Regions from separate parts of the Homo sapiens genome. Here region 1 is linked to region 2. Evidence: fine-mapped expression QTL. A gene starts in region 2. The other region holds a variant in brackets. All regions are shown on one strand. Distances are between the middles of the regions. Region 1 overlaps KIAA0319. Region 2 holds the start of KIAA0319.

Region 1 (8,343 bases), 63 kb before region 2:
TCTCTGAATGAATTTTAAAAAACCACCACGCTCCCTCACTGAAGACATCCCTTCTAAGAGTTCTTAAAAGTGATTTTCCCATCTGGTGGGGGGCACCTCCCCTCCCAAGTCAGGTCACGGGAGCTCCTCTATATAAAGATATATATATATATATATATCTTATATATCTCATATATATCTTATATATCTCATATATATATCTTATATATCTCATATATCTTATATATCTCATATATATCTTATATATCTTATATATATATACATATATATATACACAAAGTGATTTTCCAACTGCTAACCATATATACCACACCAGAAGGAGATTCTTCAATAATTGCTCTAATTCCCTATCAAATGGCCAGGCGCTAAAGAACTTTCTAATAGAATAGACGAAAGGTGAAGGGAAAATAAGCACAGGATAGAGGAGCTAAAGGAACTAAAGAAGACATAAAACTAAAGAAGGAGGTGATCGTTTATCAAAGTAACAGCCCATAAGTCCTCCTAGCTTTGATGCAGAGCACTCATTACATTTCGTAGCACGTAGAGAAAAAAAGAAATCCCTAAACTATCTCAGGATACACACGGCTGCCATCAATGAGGGCTGACGTCAAAGGCAAAGTGAGCTCTTGCAGTTGGGGAGAAACAACTGCTACAGGTGGCAGGTTGACTCTTCTGGCTGTAACAAAAAAAAGGACAGTGACTGAGCCCATCTTGTGTAGGCATATGTCATTACCCACATAAAATCATCTACTTTAAAAAATTGATTATACATGTCCTGTCAAGAAGGTGTTTATCCTACAGGCCTCAACTATGGAGAGCACTTTTTAAAGTCTGGAGTCTCTCTATGAATTTCAGGAGCTTGTCTGGACATTTACACTTTTGCATGTAAGCCCAGGCTCAGTGAAGATGTACAATAATAACCAAGGGGCTCATCACAGAATGTGAGCAGTAATTACAGAGCAGGAGCAAGGGATGAAGGGATTACAGTTCCAGCTCCTTGGATTGAGTGGATCTTATATCTCTAACTGAAGGCAACTCCCCCCCCCACCCCCCATAACCATATGCAAAAGATAGAGCTGTCAGGCCCTCAGGGTGGGCTGAAGTGGGTACAAGGGAGGTTCACCTTGATTGGGTCGGTTGTGCCCTCAGCACAGGTGAGGGGTTGGTGGAGGCTGAAAGCCAGCCCATGTTCTACTCACCAAGCCAGGGCTGTGCCCACCCAGCCCAAGAACCACCTGTTTCTAATTCACATGAATGCACTGACCGATGGGCATACATTTTCCCCTGACCTCTTGGTTGCTCAGTTGAATGTATTCAACATGCCCCTGCTTCGAAGGTGAAGCTGAATCACGGAGAGTGGAGGTAGAAGTTAGAGTGGATGGTGTAAATGTCAGATAGAGAGGGCTAAGGTAGATTTGCCACCATTCGAGAGCAGCCAGCAATAACCTTGTCAAGCAAGTACAAAGTGTTATGCGAAAGGTAGAAAAAAAAACCAAAAATATAATCTTTGCGTGTTTTCTCTACAATGGAGCCTAATACAAAATAGGTTTTGTCTCTCTAGGTAGATAGGTAGACAGATATAGAGTCATCCAGGCACCAAAAATTGAGATAAATATGTACAACAGGAGGTCATTCTCTTACACCGGCTTACCAGGCTTAACAGTGACATTGACAAATCCTTCTCCAAAGGCGTTTTCACTAGAAACAGTGACTTTGAAGACATAAAGTCCGACGGACAACTGTAACATAAAGAAAAGTTGTACAGTTCAACATGCAAGACGTGATGGGTCCACTACGTAGAAAAAGCTAAAATGTCCCAGAAGCCGCACTCCTAAAGTCAGCATAGAGAAGGGGCTCAGGAGACAGTCTCATTTGGATCTGTCAAGAGGCTGCCGCATGTTTGAAGCCTGAATTCTGGAGCACTAAAGATCACCTAGACAGGCCTTTAGCTTCGCTGCAGAGGGCTTCAAAGAGGCCTGGGTGAGATGGACCAGCAGAGGGCAGCAGTTCTCAAATGTGTGTATGGAACCATGCATTTTTACCACCTAGCTCTGGTGCATTGGTTGCCGGTGGTCTGGATGCCACACTTTGAGAAACACAGCTCCATGACATGAGGGTGATGCAAGTCTGTGTTGTACCATTAGCTGTGTGGTCCCAGGAGATGAAGTCAACATAATCATCTGGTAGGAGACTAGATCTCTAGTCGCTAAGTCGGTTTATATATCCTCCTAGGCCAGAAAGAGGGCATGTTTCTTGTGAGTGCTTGTATCATAGAACAATATGTGATAGGGCAAATTGTGACCTGGAATGGAATTATTGGCAACTCTAGAGATGTGCCGGACTGAGAACCAGAGATAAGTAGAATGTCCTTAACACTGCAAGGAGAGCAAGAGTTACAACAGGTTTTTAACCTCTCTGCAATGCTTGTGGGACAACCAGGCTCTTTTCCCCAAACTGAGATATACTAAGTAACCCAAATAAAGAAACGCCATCCAAAGCCTCTTAACCATCTGCCTGCCTACTTGCATGCCTGAAACTTTATTCATTCATATCCTACTTTTGATCTTACCATGAGAAAGATGTTTGCAGCTGGGCGTGGTGGCTCATGCCTGTAATCCCAACACTTTGGGAGGCCAAGGAGGGCAGATCACTTGAGGTCAGGAATTCAAAACCAGCCTGGCCAACATGGCGAAACCCCACCTCTACAAAAAATACAAAAAAATTAGCCGGGTGTGGTGACGTGCACCTGTAATCCCAGCTACTCAGGAGGCTGAGGCAGGAGAATCACTTGAACCCGGGAGGCAGAGGTTGCAGTGAGCTGTAATTGCGCTACTGCACTCCAGCCTGGGCAACAGAGCAAGACTCTGTCCCCAAAAAGAAGAAAGACGTTTGGGTTCAGTAGCTAAGAAGGTATTAACTGAGCTCTATGCCGTTACGCTGTGCTGTTAGACACAACCAGTCTCCAGTTACTTACTTGAGAGAGGTTAAGAGTTTGCTTGTGTCCTTGTTTTATTTCACCTTGGTAGTCTGTGGGGTGGCTTATTAAATTCCATTCATAGTTGTAGGTTGTTTCTGAGAGCAAAAAATAAATATGAGTAGTTATAAATTCTGAGAGGACACTAGATAACCTGGGCAGAGGGAAGATGACAGCCTTTAAACCACCAGTGCAGATTACCTTAGATATACTCAACTCAGCTTTCTTTTTTTTTTTTAACTTATATATATATTTTTTGTTTATTTGTTTTTATCCCCTCACTCTTGTTATCATCTTATGAACTTGACTTTCAACTATCAGCCAAGATAACATGTATCTTCTTAATGTAACATTTCTTTTTTTGTTATAAAAACATACGTCTTACAGGAAATTTTTAAAATGTATAAAGTTAAAAAAAAAAAAACCTCCCTAACTTAACCATTAGTATGTGATGAGTTTTTTCCTAGGGGGCTACATCTGACTATCCATATCAGTTTTAACATAGTATAATACATTGTGCTTTTCTCTTTTTAACAAAAGGCAAGGAGATTTCAATTCATTTGATCTGTTGTAGGGGTTTATTTAAGGACACAAAAACAGTATAAACATGTCTATGTTAAGATGAAACTGTCTCCCAGCTGCAGATATTAGTAGTTAAAATATAAGGTACCTCACCTCAAAGGATTAAAATGCAAATGCCAAATATTATCATCTCTGTGTATAAAATTTTGACCAATATGTGGTGGAGAAAAAAATGAATTAAGGAACTAACCTGAATGAGAAATAGTCAAACACCTTAAGAATGAGTTTACCTTAAAAACAATGCATTTGACAGGCCACAGGTCCCAGGTCAAATGCTTACTGAATGGTAGAGCACTGGACAAGTAGAAGAAAGAGCATTTTGAATAAATTTTTTTGAGCAGCTAGTGTGAGGCATCCTGAGAACCTGAGAGCCGTGATTGTCAATGCCACAGTATCTGCAAACAAACCTATGGGTGCACGCCACTTCCCTCTCATCCCGGTGGAATCTTCCCAGGTTCTATGGGTTATTACAGTTCAAGAACTGGTACGTGGCAGCCTCTCCTGATCTGCTTTGCATCATCAGAAATTTATGACTTTCCATCCTGACCAATTAAACGATATATACTGTATTTAATTTCCTAGATTCTTACTCCATTTGAAACTATTTCAACAAATGTTGATGCTTAAGAATAATCAAAGCCTTGTCCTCCACCTTTGTTTGTGACGTCGTGCAATACTGTGAAAAAGAATCGGCGTTGTAAATAGCCTGTAAGGACCTGCTGAAGAAAAACACCCCAGTTCCTAG[T/A]GGTCAGGGAGGAAGGTTAAACTCTCACCTACAGGTGGCGCTGGCGCAACAAAGGCCTTCAGTTCAACTTCATTGTCGGGTAAAGTTATAATTAGGTTATCTCCAGCCGATACCGTAAGTTCTTTCACTAAAAGTTAATTAGAAATAATACGTGCAATTATATAATATAATGTGTTACATTACTGCTCTACACTAGATCTGTTTTTGGTATCCATAAATTAAAATAACATATGCTTTTGTAATAGTTCTTCATAAGATTTTAGCTAAGGCACGTTTTTCCTCTGGCTAGAAATTGAACTGTACACTATATTATAGTACAGGGTTTTAAACCACAAATATGAGTTGGCACTGTGACAAAAATAATGATTCAAATTGACTGAGCAACGTATTGAGTGACAAGAGTTGCGTGAAACAGGTTTCATGCAACTGTGAATTGGGTCCATTTTCTCCCTTGCTATCAGCTTTTCTTGACGCCCTGGTGTGAGCTATTTTTAGTTATAAAAAGATTGAGTGTAATCCTAAGTGTTTCTGTCTCATTAGTCACACTCCACTCAGTTCTGATAGTAGCCTCATGAATTACTGCTAATGGCCTTGTACTTGGAACCTTTCCAAGACAAAATCCAGTCACCCTCAATATAAAAAACCTATTTTAACTTAAGCAGCAGGAACATTAACTCTTATCAAAAGTGCTTAGCCACCAAGTAAGCATTCAGAACAATACTTGTTTACTTTCTCTGTAACCAGATTACATTGATATATTCATAAATTCTATCGGTTTGGCTCCATTGGACATTAGTTTCACTTGTAAAATATATTGCGATATGTCCAGATACTACACAGAGAAAAGCAAAGATTTAAAAAAAAAAAAAAAAAAAAAAAAGCTGAGTGCTCCAGAGGGATCAGCTGCAAGGAGATGTCAGACAGGTTGTTCATTTAATCCACTCCCCTCCTCTCAGTCCTCAGTCCCTCGAGTGCCTCCTAGATCAGCTGCAGAGGCTCTCAGTGGCTTTGCTGGCTCCTCTCTTGTCATTTTCACTAACTCTTTATCCTGAAAGTCAGCAACTGTAGACCTAGAAGGGACATTGATCCAAACCTATCATGTTATAGGTGGGGAAATTAAATCCTAGAAAAGCAAAGTTGTCCAAGGCTGTATGGTAATTAGCAATAGGTCCACCAATATTTAATTTAAATGTATTCATTTCAACAAACACTTATATACCGGATTAAACTGTGCCAGGCATTGCCCCAAGGGCTTTAAAATGATCAATTCATTTAATCCTCATTACAACTGTATGCAGTAGGTTCTATTAAAACCCAAAGATCCTGGGCCAAACTCCCAGGCCAGTTTCTTTTTCCGTATACTACACAGCTTCTCTCCCACTATTATCTTTCTCTCTATGGAAGCTCAGGCTCAAAGTAAATACAAAAGTTAGAGAGAGTAATCTCCAAAATACATGGCCCACAGAAAAGCTCAGGAAACATGACCCTTACGTCTAGCATATTCTAATAACTTCCTTATTGGAAAATCTAATGGAAGCTTTGCAATCCTCACCACAGCCTCTGCGACACATGGAGCTTTGATACGTCTTCCCTTTTGGAACTACAGGAGACCAGAACATGCCACCCCAAAATATGATTTGTGAAAGGGAAATAAATCTCGGGACCCCCAAATCACTAAGCCAAAGGGAAAAGTCAAGCTGGGAACTGTGTCAGGCAAACCCGCATCTCATTTTATTCCTAAACGAGATACCTACAAAGATTAAAAAAAAAAAAAGCTACATGCCTTCCTTATAATTTGCCCACAAGAAACTCCTTGTGGGCCTCAAGATCTTTGCCCTAAAACAGTTTTGTTGAATTTCACCCTGGCAATGTAAATCAATAGCTTATCTTCACAGGTGCAGGGGGTGGGGGAAAGAGCTCAGCCATCCCTCTGCTCACCTGAGACAAATGCATATCTAATTGTTTCCTCTGCCCTATTGTTTATGAAAAAATACAGATTCACTGAGCCAGACAAGGCATAAGTGACTATTCCTCTACCCCCTCTGGCAAGTAAATTGTGTATTCAGTGAAAGACTGATCAAAGACTCAAAAGAATGCAATATTTGTCTCTTATATACCTATGACCTGAAAGACCCCCTTCCAGTTGTCATGCCTTTCTGGACCAAACCAATGTACATCTCACACATACTGATTGATGTCTTATGTCTCCCTAAAATGTATAAAACCAAGGTGGCCAGGCACAGTGGCTCACACCTGTAATCCCAGTACTTTGGGAGGCTGAGGCAGGTGGATCACTTGAAGTCAGAAGTTCAAGACCAGGCTGGCCAACACGGAGAAACCCTGTCTCTACTAAAAATACAAAAATTAGCCGGGAATGGTCATGGGTGCCTGTAATCCCAGTTACTCAGGAAGCTGAGGCAGGAGAATCTCTTGAACCTCGGAGGCAGAGGTTGCAGTGAGCCAAGGTCACGCCACTGCACTCCAGCCTGGCCACGAAGCAAGACTCCGTCTCAAAACAAACAAAAAAAAACAAGCTGTACCCTGACCACCTTGGATACATGTCATCAGGACCTCCTGAGGCTGTGTCACTGGTGAGTCCTTAACCTTGGCAAAATAAACTTTCTAAATTGATTGAGACCTGTCTCAGATACTTTTGGTTCACAGACTGTAGGAAACTAGAATATGCCATTGCAACTATAACTCTTTTATACAAGGATTATTTTGAGCTGTGTTTTTTGTTTGTTTGTTTGTTTGTTTTGAAGAAACAGCAGACCAAGAGGAGCTCTGAAAACAGAGTAGAAGTTACTCCTTTGTAAGGGGAATTTATATCTATAAAGGAAATCTCCATTTGTAAGGGTCTCTCTCCTTCTATACCAGGAAGAGAAGGGTGACTACATTCCAAGAGATCCACATCCATAGAGAAGGTCCTGACAAATCTGCATAATGAACCTCACTCTTGCTTACTTCGTTTATTCTGGGCACCTTTGGCCACTTGCCTTCCCCACAATCCTCTTTCCTTGTTTTAGTTCAAGATGCTATATAAGCCAGAGTTCCAGGCTTATATAATATAAGCTTATATAATAAACCTCTCTGAGATTTCCTCATTTCCCTGGGCATCTCCCACGTATAGGTAAGATGTACATGTTATAAACTTGTTTTTTTTTTCTCTCTTGTTAATCTATCTTTTGTTACAGGGGCACTAGCCTAGAACTTAGAAGGGTAGATGGAAACTTATTCTATCCTCCTCCATAGAACTCTCTCCCTCTAGCTTTCCTCTTTATCTCCTACCTCTCTGGCACAACTACCCAATCAGTTTTGCAGGCTCCTTCTGCACTTCCAGCTCCTTATAGAACAATGTCCCCAAAGTTCCAGTCCTCAGGCCTCTCCTCAGCTAACCCCCCTCTCTCCCTGGATGATCTCCTATGTCCCCCGTGTCTGCAACTATCACCTCCACACCGATGACTCGTAATCCTTTATCTTCAGCCCAACTGCTCATCTAATTTTAGTTCTGTATTTTCATATGTCTTAGCGTCCTCTTCCTTCACATCCTTACATTCATTCAATCACTTATCAAATCTTTGTGACTCTGCTCCCTTCCTGTCTCCTAAATCTGGTTCCTTCCCTCCATCTCTGCAACCATTCACCATAGCCTTTTCATGGATCTTGTTGCCTCTAGTCAACTCCACACTATTTTCTTTTTTTTCCTTTTTTTTTGGTTTGAGACGGAATCTCACTCTGTCGCCCAGGCTGGACAGAATGCAGTGGCATGATCTCAGCTCACTGCAAGCTTTGCCTCCCGGGTTCATGCCATTCTCCTGCCTCAGCCTCCCAAGTAGCTGGGACTACAGGCGCCCACCACCACGTCTGGCTAATTTTTTGTATTTTTAGTAGAGATGGGGTTTCACTCTGTTAGCCAGGATGGTCTCGATCTCCTGACCTCATGATCCACCCACCTCGGCCTCCCAAAGTGCTGGGATTACAGGCGTGAGCCACCGTGCCTGGTCCCTTTTTATTCATTTTTTACTTTTTTCAAGACAGTCTT
Region 2 (8,343 bases):
GGTGGTATGCGCCTGTAGTCTCAGTTACTCAGGAGGCTGAGGTGGGAGGAGGCAGAGGCTGCAGTGAGCCAAGATCGTGGCACTGTACTTCAGCCTGGGTGACAGAGCAAGACCGTGTCAGAAAGAGAAGGGGAGGGGAGGGGAGAGAAAGGAAGGGGAGGGGAGGGGAGGGGAGGAAGGAGAGAGAGAAAGAAGAAAGGAAGGGAAGGGAAGGGAAAGAAGGAAGGAAGGAGTAGGGAGGGGAAGGGGAGGGAAGGAGGGAGGGAGGGAGGGAAGTAAGGGAAAGAAAGAAAGAGAGAAAGAAAGAGAAAGAAGGAAAGGAAGGAAGGAAAGAAAGAGAAAGAAAAAAAGAAAAGAAAGAAAGGGAAGGAAGGAAGGAGAGAGAGAAAGAAAGAAAGAAGAAAAGAAAAGAAAGACATTTTAAAGGGTTATTTTGAAAAAATTTTGAAGGTAACTCTGTTACAATGATTACAAGACAGTGCAGCTACACATCATGTACTTCATCTTAATGATGAAAACAAAAGATGGTAAGGTATGCTGACATAATCACAATCTTAGAATAACAGAACAGGATTGTGATCCTGGGAAGGGACAGCCCATACTTCCCCATCATCACATGAATAAACATCCTATCAACTGTAATGCTTAAAATGTATGGGTGTTATGGGTGGCAACGCTGGAGTTAATTTACCCTCCATGCTTATATTCTGATGCTTAATAGCATGGAATGACCCCAACTTTGAAAATTCATTTTTAGGCCTGAATTATCCTCTTATTCAAGCTACATTGCTTAAATTAAATAGATGCTTACTATAATCCTTTGCTGCATTTTTTTTTTTTTTGAATTAGAGTCTTGCTCTGTGGCCCAGGCTGGAGTGCAGTGAGGCAATCTGGGCTCACCGCAACCTCCGCCTCCCGGAGTTCAAGTGATTCGCCTGCCTCAGCTGGGATTACAGGCGCCCACCACTATGCCTGGCTAATTTTTGTATTTTTAGTAGAGATGGGGTTTCACCATGTTGGCCAGGCTGGTCTCGAACTCCTGACCTCAGGTGATCCGTCCATTTCGGACTCCCAAAGTGCTGGGATTATAGGCATGAGCCACCGCGTTCCCAGCCTCCTTTGCTTTTTTGAACTTAAGGAAAAGAATGACCAGCAAGTTGGCAGGCAGGATAATTCTACAATATTATTTAGAAGGAAAAATAACTAAAACTTGAACACTATTATCTTTACCTACTGGTGTCATTTAAGCAGCTCTACTTTAAAACTTAAACACCTACTGTTAAAAGACCCTGCAAAATGATGATGCCAGATGTTACTCTGGCTCAACCATTTTTATTGTTTAATACAAATAAATGAGAAAATATTTTCTTATTATTGAATTCACATGAATAGTGTCTAAAGGTACAGATTTTTAAAGACAAATAGAAAAATAACCTACACTATTCGGGTAATGGGTACACTAAAAGCCCAGACTTTGACACTACACAATATATCCACATAACAAAACTGCACTTGTACACTCTAAATCTATAAAAAAAATTTTAAAAACAAATAGAAAAATAACCTACCAATTATTCTAGGCCTACTAAAGCAAAGCTCCTTCCTTGGGGGTATTAAGCTACCAGAATATTAAATTGACATGATTTTATGATTTTGATTATTATATTTATTATTGTTGCTGTTATAAAGGTGCTGCAAGGAAAAATTTATGCATTTTATGATGATTTGATATCATAAATCAGAACAAGCTTTGGACATGTCAAAATAAATCTATTTTTTAGTACCAAATTATTTTTAAGGTATGAAAAATATTTCCTGAAAAAGAACACATCTCAAAAATAACAACACTTATTGAAGCGTTACTATTAAAACATGCCAGGCAATGAGCAAAGATCTCTTAAACATATTATTGTATTTAATTCTTACAGGAATTTCGTTAAGTAGGTCCCATTGTTATCTCTATTTTACAGGTGAGGAAACTGAGCCTTAGAGGGTTTAGAGAATTTGCCAAATGTGAGACAGCCACTAAGTGGCAGAGCCACGCCCAAACCCACACCCTCTGACCTGGCAATCTGCAGCACTCCGTTCCAGAAACGGGCATACCTGGCTCTACATACAGCAGTGCCTCAATAACATAGTTTCATTCAACGTTGGTGACAAAAAAATTCCTGGCCAGGGCCACTGTCTATGTGGAGTCTGCTCATTCTCCTCATGTCTGCGTGGGTTTTCTCTGGGCTTCGGTTTCCTTCACATCCCAAAGCTGTGCATATGTCTACATGGTCCCCGTCTGAGTGAGTGGGTGTGTCTGTGAAAGTGCACCCTGTGATGGGATAGCTTCCTGGACAGGGGAGAGGGGGGGGTTCCCACTCTGAACCAGGGAGACTCTGGCTACCCATGACCTTGAACTGTAATAATTGGGTAAATAATGATCTTGTTTTTACTAATCCTTCTTAACTGTATGTATAGATCCCATTTATTTCTATGTTTAATATTAGAAGTGTTGTGGTCTTTATTTAGAAGTTTGGTGATTTTTTTATGACCAGAAATATGCTGTAGGAACTTAACTCTTGTTTATATCAATTAGCCTGTGGTAAAATTGGTTTCCTTATACCTCGTTGTGCTTAAAGGTTCACAGTTTCCAAGAACGTATCAAGAATGTTAAGTGAGGACTTACTGTATTTATTTAAAGAGAATGCTTCCTATCTATTGGCTAGGGAAAAAAAAAAAGTCAAGAAAATTTAACAGCAACTCTATTCTTTTACATTCATACATTACCAAAGCTCTCTTTTGGCTATTTTTAATTCATAAAGATTTTGGCTGAATTATTTTCATTATTTCGAAACAAAAATTAAGTTCTTGCCTCGGCATTTTGCATTACAAATGCAAATGCATTACAAATGGTTAATACAAATAAATCAGAGTACTTAGGTAATATGTTTACATTTCCCTTTTTCAAATTACAGAGGAATTCACCTTTCTCTGTGACTCCTACGTCTATAACTGAACTGACACCTCCAGTTTTCCTCATCTGAATTAAAAATAATACTAAAAAAAGCACAAAATAAAAGTTTAGATTTGGCATAACTTTAGTAGTCTCTACAATTGTGGTCTTCTTATAATAAATTGAAGCATTTGGAAAGTGAGCATGTATTTCAGGAATAAAGAAATAAATACCAACATTTACTTCCAAAATTCTTGTGTGTGGGGGGGAACATTGTCTACAATTTATTTTTTCTGTTACTATCAAAAACATCATTCAACTTTTCAATTCAAGCAGTGGAAAAAATACTAACATTTCACCGACAAACAAAAATGTTTTGATGAACAAACCAGCAATAAAAGTGCACATGAGTATGTATATCATATTTTTCCTCCTTGTATTTAATTAACAAATGACCTTAAGATGATAACTCTCAAAATTTCAGGTTTATCCTCCCGATTAATTTGTGACATTCCTTGGAGGGAATTCAAAGGGAAGAAGAGAAAGATTTTAAGCTTCAGGTTATGGTAAGGAACAGAGACAAAATGCATTTAGCAAATAATAGGAAAGATCACATAAATAGTTCTGAATGAAGTTTAAAGAAAACGATTCCTTACTTCTAAAAAAATGCAATTCGTGAGGTTGGGAAAAGACACTCAAATTTCCCCGACTCCACCCTACTAGTCAACAATCAGTGCAGCAATCAAAAAATGCCCTTTCCTGAATGCCCAGAAGAATCTTAAGAAACTCACCTTCTGAACTCAGGGCGTCTCGATTCTACTTTTGTTGGGTATTGGCCTGCCTACTGGCTGCCCTCTTTCCTATTTCTCGGCCAGGCGCTCTGGGAAGTAGATACCGTACCTGTGGTCACTGCTGGCGACACTGAAGCTCGCCCCATGCGTTGCTGCTGGCCCTGAGCATCACTCGCCGTCCCACTTGTTCCTCCTCGTCGTCATCGCAGGTCTTACACACACACACACACACACACACACACACACACACACACACACACACGTTCACACCCTCGCGCGCGCACCTGCTGTTAAGAGGTACAGCCCCACCCCAGCAAAATCCTCGCTTCCTCTTCCCCGGGACGTAGCCCCAGAGGAGCGAATCTGGACCAAGCCCAAGACAGGCTGAAGCTACTGCTGCGCTCTCACCTCCGGCAGTGACAGCGAGCGCCGCCGCCGCTCTGCGCGGGGCCAGCCAGGCCCGCCGAGGGCAGCACAGGTGGAGCAAGGTTGCACCCCCGGGGGATCCCCGCCCACCGCCCGCGGCAGCTTCTGCAGGCTCGGGGAAAGCGCGCGCCAGTGATTCAGCGCCTTTCCGCCGCCGCGGTTACCACGGCGACGCGCGCGCACGCGCACACACGCCCTCAGGGATGTGGGGCGCGGCAGCCGCCCCTGCCCAGCTCCCCTGCTCAGCTCCCCTGCTCAGCTCCCCGGTTGCGCTCTAAGTACCCGCACCGGGGCGACACACTCCCACCCCGCAGGGGACCAAGCAAAAGTCTTTCGTGAACCTGAGCGGCCTTCATACCCTACCTGCTTTCCTTCACCAAGCCCTTCCCTGTCACCGTGGCCCTAAACAGTCTGGGGGATGAACACTCCTTCCAAATAAACACCCGGGCCAGGGTGGCTCAAGGGAGCCGTGGGTGCACTGCCTGGGTCAAACACCCTTCGCGAATGTGTCCCCCAGCTTGTCCCCAGCTTGTGTCACCCCAGCTACACAAGTTCCATTCTTCCAGTGGGAGTCTCTTTGGCCCCTACTCTGTAATTATCTTTCTATTTTGAGCAGGTGCTTTCTGACTGAGACTGGGAACCTGTGCTAGGAGGGGCTCCCATCACCTCCAGGCCTTGCAGGTTAACTGGATGCCCAGTATAGTTTGACATTTGCATCTTGAGGAACGTGATAATCTAAACCACAGAAAACTTGGGTGGAAGACTCTTGCATTTTTACTGTTTTAATAAAGATGCGAAAGCATCTAGGGATAATATCATGAGCAGAAAAGGTAGCCAGGGCATTCCTCGCACATCTCATTACTAGGAGGTATAAGTGCAGTGCTTAGGGCTGAGTCACACACTGTTGATGAATAAGCTTCTTGGCTACTCGTATTTACCGAAGAGCCTCAGACAAGTTACCTAATCTAGATAAACCTGTTTCCTCAATTATAAAATGAAGATAATAGCATTCATATAGGATGATTCTGGGAATCAAATAAGATAATGCACATTTAAAGAGTAAAAACCAGCTGGGTGCGGTGGCTCACGCCTGTAATCCTAGCACTTTGGCAGGCCGAGGCGGGCGGATCACGAGGTCAGGAGATCGAGACCATTCTGGCTAACACGGTGAAACCCCCGTCTCTACTAAAAATACAAAAAATTAACCGGGAGTGGTGGCCCGCGCCTGTAGTTCCAGCTACTTGAGAGGCTGAGGCAGGAGAATCGCTTGAATCCAGGAGGCGGAGGTTGCAGTGAGCCGAGATCGTGCCACTGCACTCCAGCCTGGGCGACAGAGCAAGACTCCGTCTCAAAATAAATAAATAAATAAATAAATAAATAAATAAATAAATAAATAAATAAATAAAAACTAAAGAGTAAAAACCTGTCCAGGACTCAAAGAGTGAAAATCAGCTTGGACTTGGAAAAGTTAGTACTGCCAATGATCAATGATCAGGCTGAGAGGACAAAGTCAGAAGCAAAATTAACAGGCAATGTTGTTTCCTCTGAAGTCACGCAGCAGGTACAAAACAACACAACTCCTTGTGTTCCATTTTTGAATGACTACTACTTTCTACCTTTGCTTTACTATTCCCATCCATAACTGGGGATACCCAATTGCTAAACTCCCTTCACCTCCTGACAGCACCCAATCCCTCATTAATCCCCCTTTCTCTCAATCTGCCTCAGAAACAGCAACCAACTGGATCCCAGCTCTGATTCCAAGACTCTCCCTGGAATCCTTTAATAGGAAGCCAAATCTTTACAAAAGACACTTCCTCCTTTCTGTGCTCACATGGCATTCCACAGGTACTCTTTCAATGCATCAAGCCAATGAATCTGATTTTGTCCCCAACGATCCTTGGCTGATTAGCCTTTAAAGAAACATATTTTTAGCACATACACACACACACAGGCTTAGCCCAGAATGTTTAACTATACCATCTTTTTAACTCAGAGACACTGTAATGAATATCTATTTTCATTTTTAATGAATATATCTATTTTGGTATTGTATGAAAATGTTAGTCTCCTTCTTTAGGACACAGATGTGAGGCTACTACCTTTCACTTCTTTTCAGCATTCAGTGGACATCCATTGAGCTCCTACTATATGCCAGACACTGCAAGAGGTAGTAAGGATAAAATGATGTATCCTTAGTATAATTAACTTTGTCTGCTCTTGCTTATGCTTTTGGTTGGGACATTTGTACAATAAAAGATAACTTATTTTGAGGGTGGGTAAAACTGAGGTTTAGGAAGGTTAAAGTACATTCCACATCAGTGGTAAAAATGGTGCTTAGCGTAATGACAGTGCTGCCTCATTGAAATACAAGACTTTAGGCCACGTACAGTGGCTCATGCCTATAATCCCAGCACTTTGTGGGCGAGGCAGGAGGATTGAGTGAGCCCCGGAGTTCGAGGCCAGCCTGGGCAACATAGCAAGATCCTCTCTGTACAAAAAACAAAAACAAATAAAAAGTAGCTGGGTGTGTGGTGCACACCTGTAATCCCAGCTACCCAAGAGTCTGAGGCTAGAGGATCACTTGTGCCCAGGAGGTTGAGACTGAAAAAAAAAAAAAAAAAAACCCAGAAGATTCTATGTTGGAATTTCACTAAGCAGGAAGGTAAGGCAAGCAAAGCTACTACACTGGAAAAACTTTGAAAAATTCCAAGTAAAAAACTCAAGATATAGCAAATTAGTAGGTTAATTCATTGATAACTATTGCTCATGAAAGCAGACTAAAAGTGGTTTTTTTTGAGACAGTCTTGCTCTGTCGCCCAGGCTGGAGTGCAGTGGCACGATCTCGGCTTACTGCAACCTCCGCCTCCCAGGGTCAAGTGATTCTCCTGCCTCAGCCTCCTGAGTAGCTTGGATTACAGGCACGTGTCACCACGCCTGGCTAATTTTTGTATTTTTAGTAGAGATGGGGTTTCACCATGTTGGCTAGACGAGTCTTGAACTTCTGACCTCAGGTGATCCACCTGCCTCGGCCTCCCAAAGTGCTGGGATTACAGGCATGAGCCACTGCACCCAGCCGATAATCCTTTATTTAATCTAGTATACTACACTGTATTTTTTTTTTAAGAATTTAGACTTTCACCCATCTATGTTTTGCAATGTGATCTGAAGTTCTAACTTAGCTCTTCTAAATGAAAGCAATTTATGCCAGAATAACCCTTTTCCCACAGAAATGTACTATTGTATTACCTCTATGATGTATGCTACTCTACTATTAACATCTATTCTCATTTTTTATTTTATTTTTGAGATGGAGTCTCACTCTGTTGCCCAGGCTGGAGTGCAGTGGCACGATCTTGGCTCACTGCAAGTTCTGCTTCCTGGGTTCGTGCCATTCTCCTGCCTCAGCCTCCTGAGTAGCTGGGACTACAAGCACTCGCCATCACGTCCGGCTAATTTTTTGTATTTTTAGTAGAGACAGGGTTTCACCGTGTTAGCCAGGATGGTCTCGATCTCCTGACCTCGTGATCCACCCGCCTCAGCCTCCCAAAGTGCTGGGATTACAGGTGTGAGCCACTGCACCCGGCCCTCATTTTTTATTTTTAATGATTAAAATTATGATTAACATTTAAACTTTTTCGTTGTCACTACAAAGGGAATATTATATATAAATATCTTTTTTTAGGTGTTTAAATTTTGGCACTCCTGATATAAATAAGATTCTATTACTTCTAATTATTCTCGCTGGCTTTTTTTCAGACAAAGGAAGCAGATATATTCTTGGTAATTCTTGGTGGAGTGAGAAGCAAATGGAAATCTGTTTTCTTCTACACAAAGAGGAAGAAGCAGCAGTAGAGCCAGAAGCAGGAAGCAGATAAAAAATTTAATCTCATCATGGACACAAAAACATACTAAAACAAACCATAAACAAATAAAATTCTTTATTTAAATTTCTCTTGTGGGGAAAATATTTTTCTTTAAAGCACACTTAAAAGTAATTTGCATTTACTTCCTGTAAAGCATTTCCATTTCACAATTAGCAAAACTAAAAGGCTATGTCTCTTCATGCATTTATTTTTGTTAGAAAAATGTCCCATGGTGCTATCAAACCGATTTTAACCATCATCAAGCTTAACTTTGCCTCTGTTGACAACATGACTACAAACATGAATCAAAAAGGAGTTA

Evidence for each region.
Region 1: its variant is fine-mapped to the expression of KIAA0319 in testis (GTEx, PIP above 0.99).

Annotation. Positions count from the first base shown.
Region 1 is chr6:24,579,275-24,587,617 of GRCh38, forward strand. It overlaps KIAA0319, which reads right to left. Exons shown (of 21, transcript NM_014809.4): 5 at 4,330-4,428; 6 at 2,975-3,072; 7 at 1,652-1,739; 8 at 584-676. Among named protein-coding and RNA genes, the nearest start is that of KIAA0319, 63 kb to the right of the region's middle. The variant T/A (reference allele first, on the strand shown) is at 4,302.
Region 2 is chr6:24,641,895-24,650,237 of GRCh38, forward strand. It overlaps KIAA0319, which reads right to left and starts at 4,297. Exons shown (of 21, transcript NM_014809.4): 1 at 3,842-4,297. It overlaps TDP2 (tyrosyl-DNA phosphodiesterase 2), which reads right to left. Exons shown (of 7, transcript NM_016614.3): 7 at 8,085-8,343. RefSeq lists a silencer at 4,142-4,351.